Linked DNA regions of Homo sapiens: region 1 is linked to region 2. The links come from fine-mapping of genetic effects on gene expression. A gene starts in region 2. The other region holds a variant in brackets. All regions are shown on one strand. Distances are between the middles of the regions. Region 1 has its middle 9.1 kb from the start of PRDM7. Region 2 holds the start of SPATA2L (spermatogenesis associated 2 like).

Region 1 (9,368 bases), 380 kb before region 2:
CTAATCTGAGTATGACACCCCCAGGTCTCTAACTTTGGGCTGAGTCTCTCACCCTAATATTATACCCTAGGGCCTCTCACTTAAGTAACAGTGGGTAATCATTCTTGCCAACCTGAATGGCTTCATGACCCTAAAAGACAGCCCACTTGCCAGCTGATTGATTCTATGTGGATTGTTTTCCTTGGAGTGGGGGTCTTGTCTTGGTGTCCCTTCATGGTGTTGCTGAAAGATGTTGCTGGAAAAGAGGTTCCTGATACAGACCACAAAGTAGGATTCTTAGATCTTGTGCAGGAAAAAATTTGAGGTGAGTCAGAGAGCAAAGTGAAAGAAGCAAGTTTATTAGAAACGACTCCATTACAGAGTTGGACATCCTCAGAAAATAAGAGCAGGAATGCATTGTCTTTTGTTAGTGTCTCTACTCTAACTATAAAGAGAAAGAGTTATAATTAAACTTGGAAGGTGCAGATGTACTCATTAAAGTCGGGTCTATTCGTTTTAACGATGACCATTAACCCGTTGACCTAAGCTAGCTCATTAATATTATCTTTAACAAAAAATGCTGCACTCCTAGGATATTTATACATTTTTCAGGCTTGGTGGAAGATGTCTTGTATGGCCATAAATATTCTGCAATTGTAATTTGTGGCCAGTAAAAAAATGTGGCTATTTTCAGACTATAGGTATTAACCTTCTAGATGCCTTGTGAGTACCTAGCTACTCATATTAAGATAGAGAATTCTAGTCATGTTTATTAAACTGGAAGCTTGATAACCATGAGTTCCTCTAACACAGCAAGTCTACTCCTCAAGGAGAAAATGTATTTCTCAGGAATTTTGTGCATTTTATTTGATGGCATTTGGTATGTTTACCAAAATGGCAGAAAAGAGTGAAATTAGTCCTCAGAGATTTCTCAAGATTGGATATAAAGTAAACAAAATGATTATAGTTAATATGCAAGCTGACACAGTTGATATGCAAAAGAAATTTTGTTTGAAACACAATGAGATTTTTATTTTTATTTATTATTATTATTTTGAGACAGAGTCTTGTTCTACTGCCCAGGCTGGAGTGCAGTGCACCATCTTGCCTTACTGAAACCTCCGCCTCCCAGGTTCAAGTGATTCTCCTGCCTCAGCCTCCCAAGTAGCTGGGATTACAGGCATGAATCACCACACCCAGCTAATTTTTGTATCTTTAGTAGAAATGGGGTTTCACTCTGTTGGCCAGGCTGGTCTCAAACCCCTGACAACAAGTGATCTGCCCACCTTGGCCTCCCAAATTGCTGGGATTACAGGCATGAGCTACTGCTCCCAGCCACAATGAGGCTTTTAAATAATTCTGATTTCCTGCTGTTGAGCAGGGAGCTGAGCAAATTCAACAGATCATGAGCCTAAAGTAGAAGACTGAGGACAAACTCTAGAACACATGTGATTAAATTAATTACAATGGAAACCAAATCAAATTTAATAAGGCCATACCTCTTAGTTTCAAGATGTTTCCCCTCATTTTGAAATGTGGTGTTATTCAGTGGAAAAGAAAAATAGTGTTTATCTCCAGAGTAAAGAACAGGGTTCCCTGCAGGGACTGACTGACTGAGAGCTATGGCTCAGGATTAAAAATTCTCTTTTTTCCACTTACAAACTAAAAATTAATTTCTAAGCCCCTATTGACTAAATGGACCCCTCTTCTTGGATAAAAACGTTCCAAAGTTACCCTGAAAAGCTAGTTCAAGCCATGGGTCACACCTGCCTCATTAGACTCTCCTCCCTTTGGTTTTAATTGTAATTTTTAATTTTTATGGGTACATAGTTGGTGTATATATTTATGGGGGTACATGACATACTTTGATACAGGCATGTAATGAGTAATACATAATAAAAAACAGGGTATCCGTCCTCTCAAGCATTTATAGCTTGTGTTATAAACAATCCAATTATACTATTTTAGTTTTTATAAAATGTATAATTAAAATTTTTTTTACCATAATCACCCTGTTGTGCTATCAAATACTGTCTTGTTCATTCTTTCTAACAATTTTTTGTACCCATTTCACATCCCCACTAACCCCCTGTTCCCCCACTGCCCTTCCCAGACTCTGGTAACCACCCTTATACTCTCTATGACATCAATTATTTCAAATTTTAGCACCCACAAATAAGTGAGGACATGTGACATTTTTCTTTCTGTGCCTGACTTACTTAACATAAAGACTTTCAGTTCCATTTCTGTTACTGCAAATGACAGACTCTCATTCTTTCTTATAGCTGAATAGTACTCCATTGTATATATGTACCACATTTTCTCTATCCAGTCATCTGCTGATGGACATTTAGGTTTCTTCCAAATCTTGGCTATTAGCAACATTTGTTTTTGACTGACTTCTGGATAAAAGCCACCTTAACTGAGGTGAAATGATATCTCATTTTGGGTTTGATTTGCATTTCTATAATGATCAGTAATGTGGAGCAGCTTTTCACTTCAATATATTGTAGTGTATTAGTCTGTTTCTGCACTGCTATAAAAAAACTGAGACTGGGTTATTTATCTATTTATGTATTCACATGAAGTCTTGCTCTGTCGCCCAGGCTGGAGTGCACTGGTATGATCTCGGTTCACTGCAACCTCCACCTCCTGGGTTCAAGCAATTCTCTGCCTCAGCCTCTTGAGTAGCCGGGATTACAGGCACCTAACACCATGCCCAGCTAAGTTTTGTATTTTTAGTAGAGATGGGGTTTCACCATCTTGGCCAGGCTGGTCTTGAACTCCTGACCTCGTGATCCACCCGCCGCAGCCTCCCAAAGTGCTGGGATTACAGGCATGCGCCACTGCGCCTGGCGAGACTGGGCAATTTATAAAGGAGATAGGTTTAACTGAGTCACAGTTCCACATGGCTGGGGAGGCCTCAGGAAACTTAAAATCATGGCAGACGGGAAGCAGGCACCTCTTCCATGATGGCAGGCGAGAGAGCATGTATGTGAAGCAAAGGTGGAAGAGCCCCTTATAAAACCATCGGATCTCATGAGAACTCACTCATTATCAGAAGAACAGCCTGGGGGAAACCAACCCCATGATCCAATCACCTTCTACCAGGTCTCTCCTTCAACACCTGGGGATTACAATTCAATATGAGATTTGGGTGGGGACACAAAGCCTAACCATATCATGTAGCTATTAATTGCTTTTCAGATGGGTAATTTACAAATATTTTCTTCCATTCTGTGGGTTTTCTCTTCACTTTGTTTATTGTTTCCTTCACTTTAAAAAAGCTTTCTGACTTGCTGTAATTCCATTTGTCCATGTTTGCTTTGGTTGTCTGTGCTTATGGGGCATTATTTAAGAAATTTTTGCCCAAACCAATGCCCTAAAGAGTTTCCCCAGTGTTTTCTTGTAAAATTTTGATAGTTTGAGGTGTTAGGTTTAAGTCCTTAATTCATTTTAATTTGATTTTTGTATTTTGCAAGAAATAGGGTTCTAGTTTCATTCTTCTGCCTATGGCTTGCCAGTTTTCCCAGCCCTATTTATTACAGAAACTGTCTTGTTTTTTGTTGTATGTTATTGACAATTTTGTTGAAAATTAGTTTAGCTGTATGAGTTTGTTTCTAAGTTCTCTGTTTCATTCCATTTGTCTTTATGTCTTTTTATTCTAGTGTCATGCTGTTTTAATTACTATAGCTTGATAGTACAATTTAAAACCATGTAATGGGATTCCTCCAGTTTTAGTTTATATACTCAGAATAGCTTTGACTATTATGGTGTTTTGTGGTTCCATATATATTTCAGATTTTTTTTCTATTTCTGTGAGGAATGTCATTGTTATTTTGATAGAGATGGCATGAAATGTATAGATTGCTTTGGATCGTATGGACATTTTTTAAAATACTGATTCTTCCAATCTGTGAACATAGAAATAACTTTCCATTTTTTTGTCTTCTCTTTCATTTCTTTTATCAGTGTTTTACATTTTTAATTGTTGAGAACTTTTATTTCTTTGGTAAATTCCCACACATTTTGTTTTATTTGTGGCTATTGCAAATAGGATTACTTTTTTGAATTCTTTTTCAGTTTGTTGACTGTTGGCATATAGAAATCTTACTGATTTGTATATGTTAATTTTGTATTCTGCAAATTTACTCAAGTTATTACTTCTAACAGTTTTTTGACGGAAATATTACGCCATTCTCACATTGCTGTAAAAACAGTCGGTGACTGGTTAATTTATAAAGGAAATAGGTTTAATTGGCTCATGGTTCTACAGGCTGTACAGAAAGCATAGCACTGGCTTCTGCTTCTGGTGAAGCCTCTGACAACTGACAATCAAGGTGAAAAATAAATCCGGTGCTTGCACATCACATGGTAAGTGTGAGGGTGGGGGGAAGTGCTACACACTTGTAGATAACCAGCTCTCATGAAAACTTACTATTGTGAGAATGGCACCAAAGAAAATGATGCCAAACTGTTCATGGAAATCCTGCCCTCATGATTCAATCACCTCCCCACTAGGCCCACTTCCAACATTGAGGATTACATTTTAATATAAGAATTTGGTGCGAACACACACCTAAACTATATCATTTTGCCCCTGGCCATTCCAAATCTCATATCCTTCTCATATTTCAAAATATAATCATGACATCCCAATAATCCCCAAAGTCTTCACTCATTTCAGCCTTAACTCAAAAGTCAAAAGTCTCATCTAAGACAAAGCTAGTTTATTCTTCCTATAAGCCTGTAAAATAAAAAACAAATTAAGTGCTTCCAAGATACAAATGGGGCATAGGCATTGGGTAAATACTCCTATTCTAAAAGGAAGAAATCAGCTAAAAAAAAAAGAGGCCACAGGACCCATACAAGTCTGAAGCCCAGAAGGGGAGTTATTGAATTTTAAGGCTCCAAAATAATTATTTTTGACTCTATGTCCCATTTCCAGGGCACACTAATGCCTTGGGACGTTTAGACCTTGTGGCTTTGCATGGTTCAGCCCCCACAGCTGCTCTCATGGGCTGGTATTG[C/T]GTGCCTCTGGCTGGTTTTGTCTGCTTCTGGCTTTTCCATGTGCAAAGTGCAAGCTGTAGCTAGATCTACCATTCTGGGATCTGGAGGACAGTGATCCTCTCCTCACAGATCTACTAGGCCATGCCCCAGTGGGGAACCCACATGGGGATTGTAACCCTACATTTCTTTGCTGCATTGTTTTAGTAGAGGTTCTCCATGAGGGCTCCACCCTTGCAGCATGCTTCTGCCTGCACACCCTAGCTTTTTTATACATTATTTGAAGTAAAGGTGGAGGCTCCCAAGTCTCAGCTCTTGCATTTTGTACACTCACAGGCCTAACACCATATGAAAGCTACCAAGGCTTAAGGCTTGCACCCTCTGAAGCAGTGACTGGAGTTTTAACTGGGCCAATTTGTGCTACATCTGGAGCTGGAGCAGTGGCCAGGATGCAGGGAGCCATGTTCTAAGGCTACCCAAGGCAGCAGTTCCTGGGCCTGATCCCAGAAACTATTCTCTTCTTTTAGGCCTCAGGGTCTGTGATGGGGGGCTGCCTTTTAGATTTCTAAAATGCCTTCAATTCCTCTTCCCCATTGTCTTGGCTATCAACACTTGCTTTTTTTTTTTTTTAAGTTATACAAATATCTCTAACAAGTGATTGCTCCACAGCCTGCTCGAGTTCCTCTCTTGTAAAAGCTTTTTATTTTTCTGCCACATGAGTAGGCTGCAAAGTTTTTAAGCTTTTACGCTATACTTCCCTTGCAAGTAAAAATAAATTACAACTTACTTTTTTTTGCTCCAACATGTGAGCATAGGTTGTTAGAAGCAGCCAGGCCACATCTTCAATGCTTTAGTGCTTAGACATTTTTTCAACAGAAACCCTAAATCATCACTTTCAAATTCAAACTTTTATATATCCCTAGGGCATGACAGAAATTCAGCCAACCACTTTGCTAAGACAACATGAATGACCTTTGCTTCGATCCTAATAAGTTTCTAATTTTCATCTGAGACCTCCTCAGCTCAGCCTTCACCGTCCAAATCACTATCAGCATTTTCGTCAAAGCCATTCAAAGTTAAGAAAATCTCAACTTTCCCTCATTTTTCTGTCTTCTTCTGAATCCTACAAACTCTTCCAACCTCTGCCTGTTTACCCAATTACAAAGCTGATTCCACATTTTCAGGTATTCTTATAACAATTTTCCACTCCTTTGTGCCAATTTTCTGTATTAAGCTTTTTTCCCATCACTATAAATACCTGAGACTGGGTACCCAGGAGTTTCAGGCCAGTCTGGGCAACACAGGGAAACCCTCTCTCTACAAATAACTTAAAAATTAGCTAGGTGTGGTGGTGCATGTCTGTAGTCCTAGTTACTCAGGAGACGGAGGAGGGAGGATTGCTTGAGCCCAGGTGGTTGAGGCTGCAATAAGCTGCGTTCGCACCATTGCACTCCAATCTGGGAAACAGAGCAAAACCATGCCCAGAGAAAAAAAGAAAGGAAAAAGAAATTCCATTTTTAAAAATCAGCAGGCTGGACATGGTAGCTAACACCTGTAATCCCAGTGCTTTGGGAGACAAAGAGAGGAGTATCACTTGAGGCTAGGAGTTTGAGGCCAGCCTGGGCAGGAGAGAAAGACCCTACCTGAAAAAAAAAAAAAAAAATTAGCCAGCTGTGGTAGTGCACACCTCTAGTCCCAGCTACTTGGGAGGTTTGAGGTGGGAGGATCACTTGAGCCCACGAAATAGAGGTTGTAGTGAGTCATGATTGTGCCACTGCACTCCAGCCTGGGAGACAGAGTGAGGCCCTGCCTCAAAAAATAAAACAATTGCTCATAGGAGTATGGGTTTATTTCTGGACTCAGAATTCAGTTCCATTGATCTATTCCATTGATGATGCCAAAATCATGTTGTTTTTATTAATGTTGCTTTGTAGTAAGATTTGAAATTTGGAAATGTGAGCCTCTGAGTTGGTTTCTTTGACACTATGTTGGTTATTCTGCATCCCTTGAAATTTCATATAAATGATAGGATCAGCTTGTGAATTTCCGCCAAAAGTTTTCTTGAATTTATTTCAGCAATGTTTTGGAATTTTCCATGTATGAGTTTTTTTTTTCCCCCAAAACAGAGTCTCGCTCTGTCACCCAGAGTGCAGTGCAGTGGTGCAACCTCGGCTCACTGCAACCTCCGCCTCCCGGCCTGTAGTCCCAGCACTTTGGGAGGCCGAGGCGGGCAGATCATGAGGTCAGGAGATCAAGACCATCCCGGCTCACACAGTGAAACCCCGTCTCTACTAAAAATGCCAAAAAATTAGCCGGGCATGGTGGCTGAGACTACAGTCTCAGCTACTCAGGAGGCTGAGGCAGGAGAATGGCATGAACCCGGGAGGTGGAGCTTGCAGTGAGCAGAGATCACACCACTCCACCACACCACTGCACTCCAGCCTGGGCGACACAGCGAGACTCCGTCTCAAAACAAACAAACAAACAAACAAACAAACAAACAAAGCACTATGTCTAGGTATGACTGTTTTCAGAAGAGGTGTCATACTGGTATAACATATCATGGCATATCGTAATACTGATATGACACCCACAACACTGCTGTGACGTTCACAATGGAGATGATACCGGCAAGACTGCTATGGCACCCTTAAAACTGATGTGAAGCCCGCAAGATTCATGACACTCCTAAGACTCATATGACACCCTTAATAATGATATGACACCCATAAGGCTGATATGATGCCCATAAGACTGATGGGACACCTGCAACAGTGATATGACGCCCACGATACAGACAAGACACCCGCAATATTGATGACACTCACAGTACTACTATGACACCCCTAAGACTCATATGACACCTGTAATACTGATATGACAGCCGCAATACTGACATGACAGCAGGGCGCTTGGTACACAGCTTCCACTGACCTGGATTTGGATTGGTTTGGCCTCTATAATGAAGTTTGATGTCTCTGCTTTACTGACAAGGTATTAATGTGGTTGTTTATAATTTACAATAATTTCCTTCTTCTAGGATTATTGCAATAGCAAAGTTTAACTTATCCCTTCTCTTAGATTCCCCAGCAGTTACAGCAACTTCACACAAAATACTCCTATGTATTTTATCAAAGCAAAGACAGCCTAAAATTTTTTTTAATTTAGAAAAAAAAAGCAGCAGGGCATGGTGGCTCAGGCCTGCCTGCAATCCCAGCACTTTGGGAAGCCAAGGCAGGTGGATCACTTGAGGTCAGGAGTTTGACACCAGCCTGGCCAACATAGTGAAACCCCATCTCTACTAAAAATACAAAAACTTAGCTGGGCGTGGTGGCGGGTCCCTGTAATTCCAGCTATTCGGAAGGCTGAGGCAGTAGACTCGCTTGAACCTGGGAGGCGGAGGTTGCAGTGAGCCGAGATGGCGCCACTGCACTCCAGCCTGGGCAACAAGAGCGAAACTCGGTCTCAAAACACACACACACACGCACGCGCACGCGCACACGCACACACACACACACACACACCAAACCAAAAAAAACGAGCACTGATCCGGGGGCGCCTGTTTTCTCGGCCTCAGGCTGTGGCGCCTTCCCGTCCCCAGCCTCCTGACCGCGTCTCCTCTCCCGGTACCAGGGTCTCTCCCCAGAAACAAACTCACATCCATAACCTGCATCTTGGCCTGCGCTGGGGGTGACCAGCCCAAGCCCTCATGAGGGGACGCTTTTATTAATATAAAGTGAGGTCCTGCTACAAACGGCGGACAGGGAAACACGGCCGCGCTCCCGCCGCTACACTCAACGGCAACAGGAAGCTTTTTCCTCATCTTCGCCTGGGCGGCCCCAGGTGTCCCGAAGCTGCAGCAGCGTCTCCCTGTCTCACTGTGGACGCGGCCCCAAGTGTCCCCATGTCTCCCGAGGCCGCAGCCTCTCCCAGCCGCGTCCTGAGGGAGGAAGCTCTGTCCTCACGGTAAACGCCCCGCAACGCCGCCTTGCGGATCAGATACGGCTCAAGCGCGCAGCGCTCGGGTTTAGCAGGGGCTGGGCGCCCCCTCGCGGCAGCCCTCGGGAATCTCTGAAATTCAGCCTCCAGATTACTCCGGGCCATGATTTTGGAAATTTCAACTGAAATCGAGCCCACCATCACATGCCTTGATCAGAACGCATGGAGATTTTTAACAAGTAAAATAGATGGCCAGTAGACAAAGGTCAATGGATTTTCTTTTTCTTTTTCTCTTTCTTATTTTAGAGACGGAGGCTTGCTCTGTAGCCCAGGCTGGAGAGGCAGTGGCATGACCTTGGCTCACTGCAGCCTCCGCCTCCAAGGATCAAGCAATCCTCCCGCCTCAGCCACCCAAGCGCTGGGATTACAGGCGAGAACCTCCG
Region 2 (9,045 bases):
GTAATCCCAGCACTTTGGGAGGCCGAGGTGGGCGGATCACGAGGTCAGGAGATCAAGACCATCCTGGCTAACACGGTGAAACCCCGTCTCTACTAAAAATACAAAAAATCAGCCGGGCGTGGTGGCCCGCACCTGTAGTCCCAGCTACTCGGGAGGCTGAGGCGGGAGAATGGCGTGAACCTGAGAGGCAGAGGTTGCAGTGAGCTGAGATCGTGCCACTGCACTCCAGCCTGGACGACAGAGAGAAACTCCGTCTCAAAAAATAAAAATAAAATAAAAAGTAATGGCTGGGCGCAGTGGCTCATGCCTGTAACCCCAGCGGTTTGGGAAGCCGAGGCGGACGGCTCTTTTGAGGTCAGGAGTTCGAGACCAGCCCGGCCAACATGGCGAAACCCCGTCTCTACTAAAAATACATAAATTAGCTGAGCGTGGTGGCGGTAGTCCCAGTTACTCAGGAGGCTGAGGCCGGAGAATTGTTTGAACCTGAGAGGCAGAGGCTGCAGTGAGCCGAGATCACGCCATTGTACTCCAGCCTGAGCACAGAGCGAGACTCCATCTAAAAAAAAATAAAAATAAAACTATTCTGCATAAGCAGTGTCCAAATCATAACAAAAATCAAATGAAAAGTAAACAAGATGTAACCTTATATCCATTGGACCGGAGAAGATGAGGAAGCTGGACGATGCTGAGTACAGGAGGGGGAGGGAGCTCACGCACACTGTGGGGTGGACACGGCAGTGGCCCCAGGGGACCAGGTGCAGTCCTGGAGTCCAGGTAAGTGTGGACGGAACCTCCGACCTGGCAAGGCTGCTGCCGGTTTTAGAGGATGTATATGCAGTGGAGGCAATGGAGTGTCTGTCCCGGGAGGGCAGGGAAGGACGGAGAATCCACACGGCAGCTCATGGAGTGTCCATCCCCGGGCAGGAAGGGAGGGAGCCGTGAATGTGTACAGCCCACGTAGCCACCGCTGCCTAACAAACTACCCCAACTCAGGGGCTTAAATACTCAAGACGCCAGGCATGGTGGTTCACACCTGGAATCCCAGCACTTCGGAAGGCTGAGGCGGGGGGATCACTTGAGCCCAGGAGTTTGAGACCAGCCTGGGCAACATAGTAAGGCCCCCCTCTCTACTAAAAAGTTAAAAATTAGGCTGGGCACCGTGGCTCACGCCTGCAATCCCAGCACTGTGGGAGGCCGAGGTAGGTGGATCACCTGAGGTCAGGAGTTTGAGACCAGCCTGGCCAACATAGTGAAGCCCTGTCTCTGCTGAAAATACAAAAAGTACAAAAATCAGCCAGATGGCTCCTCAGCATCATGGGAGGCTGTTTCTAGGTGGTAACCCAATGACCAGGGGTTGGATTCATCCGAAGAGCTGTCTGCTGTCTATGGTTGGTGCCAGCTGTCGGCTGGGACCTCATTCAGGGCTGTCGGAACGACGACGTGAGGACTGGATGTGTTGCCAGGGGCTGCCAAAACGACCACAAAATGGGTGGCTTACAGCAACAGAAATGTTCTCTCTCACCATCTTGCAGGCCTGAAGTCAAAATCAAGCTGTCAGCAGGGCTGACTCCCTCTGGAGGCTTTAGGGTAGAATTCTGTTTGCCTCCAGTTTCTGGTGGCTCTAACACAGCTGTGTTACCTTCGCTCACGGCACCCTCGTTCCACTCTGCCTCCGTCTTTAAGCGGTCTTCTCTCCTGTGCGTTCATATCTAAGTTTCTCTCTCCTCATAAGGACAGCAGTCATACTGGATTGAGGGCCCATGCCAACCCAGAACAACCTCATCCTTTTTTTTTTTTTTTTTTTGAGATAGAGTCTTGCTCTGTGGCCCAGGCTGGAGTGCAGTGGCGCGATCCCGGCTCACTGCAAGCTCCGCCTCCTGGGTTGACGCCATTCTCCTGCCTCAGTCTCCCGAGTAGCTGGGACTACAGATGCCCGCCACCACGCCCAGCTAATTTTTTGTATTTTTTAGTAGAGATGGGGTTTCAGTGTGTTAGCCAGGATGGTCTCGATCTCCTGAGTTCGTGATCCACCTGCCTCGGTCTTCCAGAGTGCTGGGATTACAGGCGTGAGCCACTGCGCTCGGCCCAGAACAAACTCATCTTGATTTTTGTCTGGAAAAACTATTTCCAAAAAAGTCCCAAGAATAGGCTGCAGGTGAATGTGAGTCGCAGGTCGAAGTTGCAGGCCAAAAGCTCTGCACACGGCCGTGGCCTTCTCACTCTAGTGGCTGGGTTCTGAGGGTGTGTTAGTCCGTCCCCATGCTGCTGTAAATAGCTGCCTGAGGCTGGATAATTTATAAAGAAAAGACGTTTAATTGACTCACAGTTCCGCATGGCTGGGGAAGGCCTCAGCAAACTCACAATCATGGCAGAAGGCGTCTCCTCACAGGGCGACAGGAGCGAGAATGAGCACTGAACAAAGGGGAGAACCCCTTATAAAACCATCGGATCTCGTGGAATTCACTATCACGAGAACAGCATGGAGGAAGCTGCCCCCAAGATTTAATTATCTCCACCTGGTCCTGCTCCAGACCTGTGGGATTACAATTCAAGATGAGATTTTGGGTGTGGATACAGAACCAAACCATGTCAGAGGCCAAGGATCTCAAGACAAGGCCAGGGTATGGCATGTTTATGATTTAGCCTTGGAATTCATTCCACATCAGTTCTATTCCATGGGTTGAGGCAGGTGCAAAAACCCACCCAGGCCTATGGGAGGAGAGCTAGGCCCACTGCTGGATGGATGGACTGGTGTTGCCAAATTCAGTGAGGACAAAGGCAGAACAGTTACCTCCACCCTCCTCCGCATCAGAAGAAGAATAAAGATGAGACTTACGAAGTTAGCTGTCCTGAGGACTGGTGTGGACCCATGGTGGCACTGGGCACCAAGAGTGAGTTCAGTAAACAGTAAGTAAAAGAGCTCCCTGTCCAGAGGTGGCCACCTAGATAACTCAGGGAGATCCACCGACTGCATCACGATTTTTTTTTCCAGACATTCTCGCTCTGTCACCCAGGCTGGAGTGCAGTGGCACGATCTTAGCTCACTGCAACCGCAACCTCTGCCTCCCAGGTTCAAGTAATTCTCCTGCCTCAGCCTCCCAAGTAGCTGGGCTTACAGACATGTGCCACCACGCCCGGCTAACTTTCGTATTTTTAATAGAGACGGGGTTTCACCATGTTGGCCAGGCTGGTCTTGAACTCCTGACTTCAGGTGATCCGCCCGCCTCGGCCTCTCAAAGTGCTGGGATTACAGGCGTGAGCCACCGCACCCGGTCATGATCACTATTTCTAAGATGCCAGCAGGGAACTTCCAGGTAAAAAATCTAAGAAAAAGGGGGGACCTCGCCGCCCAGGCCCAGGGAAAGTTTCAACAAACTTGGGCCTTGGTTTTGGTGGCCTGGAGAGATGAGGGACACAGACGTGAAGTAGCAAAGCCTGCCCAAAGCGGGGGTGTGGGGTAGGGGTGGGTTTCGGCTGGGACCTCCAAGGGTCTCCCTCATCCTCCTCTACTTCTGGGCAATGCGAGAAAGTGGCTGTAGCACAGAACAGAGGAACCCGAGCGAAGAAAACGTCCCCGGGAAGTCGTGGCCCAGATTTAGCCTGGGTGGATCCGCAGCCCAGGTCAGCTTTTAGCCTAGAGAGGGGGGCGGCTTCGCCCTGCCTCAGAGACCCGCCCAGACGATGCTCTCAAGGGCTGCAGATGGCAAGTGCAGGAGGCCGGGAAGCGGAGCCAGCATAAACAGAATCTGAGGTCCCCGCATCCACCTGAGGCTGCTGTTTCAGACGAGGCTGAAAGGCTTGTCCTTCCGCCCACCTTCCGTGCCGCGGGCCCCTCCCTCAAGGGGATGGCCCCGCCCCACAGGGGAGGCCCGCCCCCGGATCCGGCCAATCCCCGCCAGGTAATGCAGGTGGCCCCGCCCCGCAGGAAAGGCTCTTCCCAGGATCCAGCCAATCCCCGCCAGGTAATGCCGGTGGCCCCACCCCCCAGGGGACGAGCCCGCGCACCTGCTTCCCCGCGGCCGGGTCGCCTGGGGCTGGGTCCCTGTCTCGTGGGGAGGAGCGGCCCAGGCACAACGTTCCCTGAGCGCCTGCCATGAGCCCGCAGCCCTCGGCCCAGCGGCGTCGTGAACGATACCGGTCCCGCGAGGAGACGGGCGACGCGGTGACAGGAGGCTCTCGGGGTGCCTCGCGCAGGGGCTCGGCCGGGCTGACACCTCCTCCTCCCCTTTCACCAGGCCCCGCCCCTCCTAAATTATTCGGAGGCGGGGCCTGCGCCAAGCCCCGCCCCGCCCCCAGCGTCACGGCCGCGGACCCCGGGCGGAGCCGACTCCCGGCGGAAGCGCGCGGCGCGCGGGGAGGCCCGAACTGATCCGCGGCGGCCGGAGACCGCTGGGGACAGACAGGTAGCGCCGTCACCCGCGGGATCCGCAGCTCCATCTGCCGGGCGAAGGGGCTCTGGTCGGGAGAGGGCTCAGCGGGCGGAAGCGCGTCTCTAGAGAAGGGTGCGGTCGATAACCGGGGGCGCCCCTGGAAGGCCGAGGTACCCAGGCTGGAGGGAGGGGCTGGAGGTGCGGGGGCGCTCAACTGGAGGGGCCTGGATCGCTGGGTGGGCGGGCAGCTGATGGGGCCGAGGTCTCCAGCGTAGGGGGTGCCGAAGATACCGGGGGCGCCCAGCCGCTGGGGGCGGGGTCTCCAGGCTCGAGGGGTCCTGGGGACGCTGGGTGAGGGTTCGGGGAGAGCGCGGCGGGCTGGGCGCGGCCTTAGGTCCCTGACCCCCCCGACCCCCGTCCGCCGCAGGATGGGCAGCAGCTCGCTGTCCGAGGACTACCGCCAGTGCCTGGAGCGCGAGCTGCGACGGGGCCGCGCGGGCGTGTGCGGGGACCCCTCGCTGCGCGCGGTGCTCTGGCAGATCCTGGTGGAGGACTTCGACCTGCACGGGGCGCTGCAGGACGACGCGCTGGCTCTGCTCACCGACGGGCTGTGGGGCCGCGCCGACCTGGCGCCCGCGCTACGCGGCCTGGCTCGCGCCTTCGAGCTTCTGGAGCTCGCCGCGGTGCACCTGTACCTGCTGCCCTGGAGGAAGGAGTTCACCACCATCAAGGTAGGCGCCAGGCCAGGAGGAGCGCGCCCCTCGTCCTGGCCTGCGGGTCGCGGGGCCGCCGACCATGGGGGACCACGCCTTTCGAGAGAGAGGGGCTTCAAGTGTCCTCAGTGCCTGGTGGGCTCCTCAAGGCTCCGAGCGCTGAGGGGTCGTGGGCGTGTGGGGGCACCCACTCCTAGGGCTGAGAACATGGGGTGGGCGAGGGCAGGCTTGGGTGCTGCCTACGGGGTCCTGCCCTGAGAGCTTGCGTCAGTGTCTTCCCTAAGAGGCCTCGCGGCCCCAGTTGCCATGGAAATCTTAGGACGGGGGCACAGAAGGGACTTGAGTTCCCATGGTCATCCTAATTCCTCCAGGTTATGGGCCAATCCCATTTGCAGAGGAGGCCGCCGAGGCTGGGAGGACTGCAGATGGGTGCATCCCTGTGAAGTCTCAGGGCTGGGCTCAGACCTAGTGAACTCCACGGCCTGGGGCGGGAGGCTGTGCCCAGGGCTGGCCTGGCCTCTCCAGGTGAGCTCCTGGCGGCAGGAGGGGGCAGGGCCGCCGGGAGCTCTGAGCTAATTCGGAAGAGTAGGAAGCCGATGACGTCACTGGGCACGTGGGCGAGCTACGCCTCCGCCGGTTGCCATGGCAGCGGCAGTCTCTCCGCGGCTCCCCGGGGACACCTGCTGGTCGGAGGCGCCAGGACTTTCATTCATGAGAGAGGACGGACAGGCCCGCCCTTGAGGCCTCCCAGGGGGCGGGGCGGGGGAATAACCGGCTTCAGTGCCGGACAGCCCTGGTTTGGACTTAGTTCTGCTGCTTCCTGGCCGCGAGGACTTGGCCAAATTAGCTAATCTCTGTCAGCCCCTTTCCTCCTGAGACAGCGACACGGGAACAGTCCAGTTCATGGGGCCAGAGGAATGAATCAAAGCCCCGAGCTCAGTGCTGCAGGCACTGGGCGCTCCACACGTGGGCCGTGTCCAGGCATTAGATGCTAGGAGTCCCGGAGTTAGGGAATTTGAGAGTCAGGAGACGCTCGCAGTGATTGTCCTGAGCTCCTTTAGTTCTTCACCTAAGTGTAGGCTAGAAAGCACTCAGCCAGGCCGGGCGCGGTGGCTCACGCCTGTAATCCCAGCTCTTTGGGAGGCCGAGGTGGGCAGATCACGAGGTCAGGAGATTGACACCAGCCTAACCAACATGGTGAAACCCCGTCTCTATTAAAAAATACAAAAATGAGCTGGGTGTGGTGGCACGCGCCTGTAATCCCAGCTACTCAGGAGGCTGAGGGAGGAGAATCACTTGAACCTGGGAGGTGGAGGTTGTAGTGAGCAGAGATCGAGCCACTGCACTCCATCCTGGTGACAGAGTGAGACTCCGTCTCAAAAAAAAAAAAAAAAGAGCACTCACCCTTCTACCGTCCCACGGCTGTCAGCCCAGTGCATGGACAGCCTCTGGAGAGCGCTGAAAACAGACGTGTCACCCCCATGGTGGAATACTACACAGCAGGGGGAATGAACGTTACAGCTTCTGTCCTTGTCTGCAAGACTGTAGTGGAAAAAAACAAAGTTCAGAACAACACGTTTAAGAGGCTACCTGTCTAGCTTTGGTTAGAGACCTTACAAAGAGGTGAAAAAAAAGGGGGGACTACCTCATACGAGGAGCAAACGAAATCTGTATTTGGGTTTGCAAAACAAACACCTGGGCAAGTACATTCAAAACTAATTAGATGAGGCCATCTCCAGGGGTGAAGGGAGCGGTGGGACAGAAGACAGTGGAATTTCTCAGTACAGGGGCTCTTCATTTTGTTCTGATTTGTGAGCTAGGTTAATGTATTCATTGTTTTTTCCATTAAATTTAAGAAATTCGGCCAGGTGCGGTGGCTCACACCTGTAATCCCAGCACTTCGGGAGGCCAAGGTGGGTGGATCATGAGGTCAAGGGATCAAGACCTTCCTGGTCAACATGGTGAAACCCCGTCTCTACTAAATATACAAAAATTAGTGGGGCGTGGTGGTGCGCACCTGTAATCCCAGCTACTCAGGAGGCTGAGGCAGGAAGATCGCTTGAACCCGGGAGGAGGAGGTTGTAGTGAGCCGAGATCGTGCCACTGTACTCCAGACAGAGCGAGACTCTGTCTCAAAAAAGAAAAAAAAAAAAAAATTCTAGGCCGGGCACAGTGGCTCACGCTTGTAATCCCAGCACTTTGGGAGCTCAAGGCAGGCGGATCACTTGAGGTCAGGAGTTTGAGACCAGCATGGCCAACATGGTGAAACCCTGTCTCTACTAAAAATATGAAAATTAGCCGGGTGTGGTGGTGGGCGCCTGTAGTCCCAGCTACCCGGGAGGCTGAGGCAGGGGAACTTGCTTGAACCTGGGACGCAGAGGCTGCAGTGAGCTGAGATGGAGCCACTGCACTCCAGCCTGGATGACAGAGCAAGACTCTGTCTCAAAAAAAAAAAAAAAAAAAAAAAAAAAAAGAAATCATCATGTTTGGGCCTGGCCCAAGCTGGCTAAGCCTAGTCTCTGGGGTTGGGTCTGAGCATCAGAAGCTGCCAAGGCCTGAGCCAACAGATCCCGGACCCACTGTACCCTAGGGTCTGGCCTATGGGAGGGTGGGCAGTCACTGACCTGGCCGCTCCCTTGCAGACCTTCTCTGGGGGCTACGTGCACGTGCTGAAGGGTGTGCTCTCAGACGACCTCCTCCTGAAGAGCTTCCAGAAGATGGGCTACGTACGCAGAGACAGCCATCGGCTCATGGTGACCGCCCTGCCCCCCGCCTGCCAGCTGGTGCAGGTGGCCCTGGGCTGCTTCGCCCTCCGGCTGGAGTGTGAGATCCTGGGTGAGGTGCTGGCCCAGCTGGGCACCAGTGTGCTGCCAGCTGAGGAGCTGCTGCAGGCACGGCGTGCCAGCGGGGACGTGGCCTCCTGTGTGGCCTGGCTGCAGCAGCGGCTGGCCCAGGATGAGGAGCCGCCACCCCTGCCCCCCCGAGGCTCCCCTGCTGCTTACAGGGCCCCACTGGACTTATACCGGGACTTGCAGGAAGACGAGGGGTCGGAGGACGCCAGCCTGTATGGGGAGCCGTCACCAGGCCCTGACTCGCCCCCGGCGGAGCTGGCCTACAGGCCACCACTCTGGGAGCAGAGTGCCAAACTGTGGGGCACTGGGGGCCGGGCCTGGGAGCCCCCAGCTGAGGAGCTGCCGCAGGCCAGCAGCCCACCATATGGGGCCTTGGAGGAGGGGCTGGAACCTGAACCTTCCGCCTTCTCCTTCCTCTCTCTGCGCCGTGAGCTGAGTAGGCCTGGGGACCTGGCCACCCCTGAAAGCTCTGCAGCGGCCAGCCCGAGGCGTATTCGGGCAGAGGGGGTACCAGCCTCAGCCTATAGGTCTGTCTCGGAGCCCCCAGGCTACCAGGCACACAGCTGCCTGTCCCCTGGCGCCCTGCCCACCCTCTGCTGCGACACCTGTCGCCAGCTGCATGCTGCCCACTGTGCAGCCCTGCCCGCCTGCCGTCCAGGCCACTCGCTGCGTGTGCTGCTTGGCGACGCCCAGCGGCGCTTGTGGCTACAGCGTGCACAGATGGACACTCTGCTCTACAACAGCCCCGGGGCCCGGCCCTAGGCCAGCTGGGCCCCAGGTCAAGGGCTCTTGGGAGACAGCTCCCGTGGTGCTTCTCTTTGCTGGGGAGGGGTCTGGGCCTCTGGTTGCCTTGTCCCTGGGGGAGTCCTGGGCACAGCAGGGGGTTGGAGAGTCCAGGCCAACCCTTGCTGGAGGTGGGACTCTCTGTATATGGAAGGCTCCAAGGGCAGCAGGCCTAAGCCGGCCAGCAGGAGCCTTTCCACATTTCCCCACCCTCGGAACCCAGACGCATGCCCACATGTGCTGGGTAGAGGGGTCCAGCCTGTTCCAGCCAGTGCCTGAACCTGTCCCTGAGAAGGACCCTGTGCCCCAAGGCCCGTGGCTCCTGGC

Evidence for each region. PIP is the estimated chance that this variant, and not a neighbour inherited with it, causes the effect.
Region 1: its variant is the best candidate, but not a certain one, in a credible set for the expression of SPATA2L in amygdala (GTEx, PIP 0.50).

Annotation. Positions count from the first base shown.
Region 1 is chr16:90,081,758-90,091,125 of GRCh38, reverse strand. No RefSeq gene overlaps it. Among named protein-coding and RNA genes, the nearest start is that of PRDM7, 9.1 kb to the right of the region's middle. RefSeq lists enhancers at 7,912-8,566, 8,639-8,768, 8,567-9,222. The variant C/T (reference allele first, on the strand shown) is at 5,010.
Region 2 is chr16:89,696,986-89,706,030 of GRCh38, reverse strand. SPATA2L (spermatogenesis associated 2 like) reads left to right here and starts at 4,326. Exons shown (of 3, transcript NM_152339.4): 1 at 4,326-4,403; 2 at 4,798-5,101; 3 at 7,726-9,045. The coding sequence starts at 4,799. The coding sequence ends at 8,697. RefSeq lists silencers at 3,731-4,450, 4,621-4,720 and an enhancer at 5,723-6,588.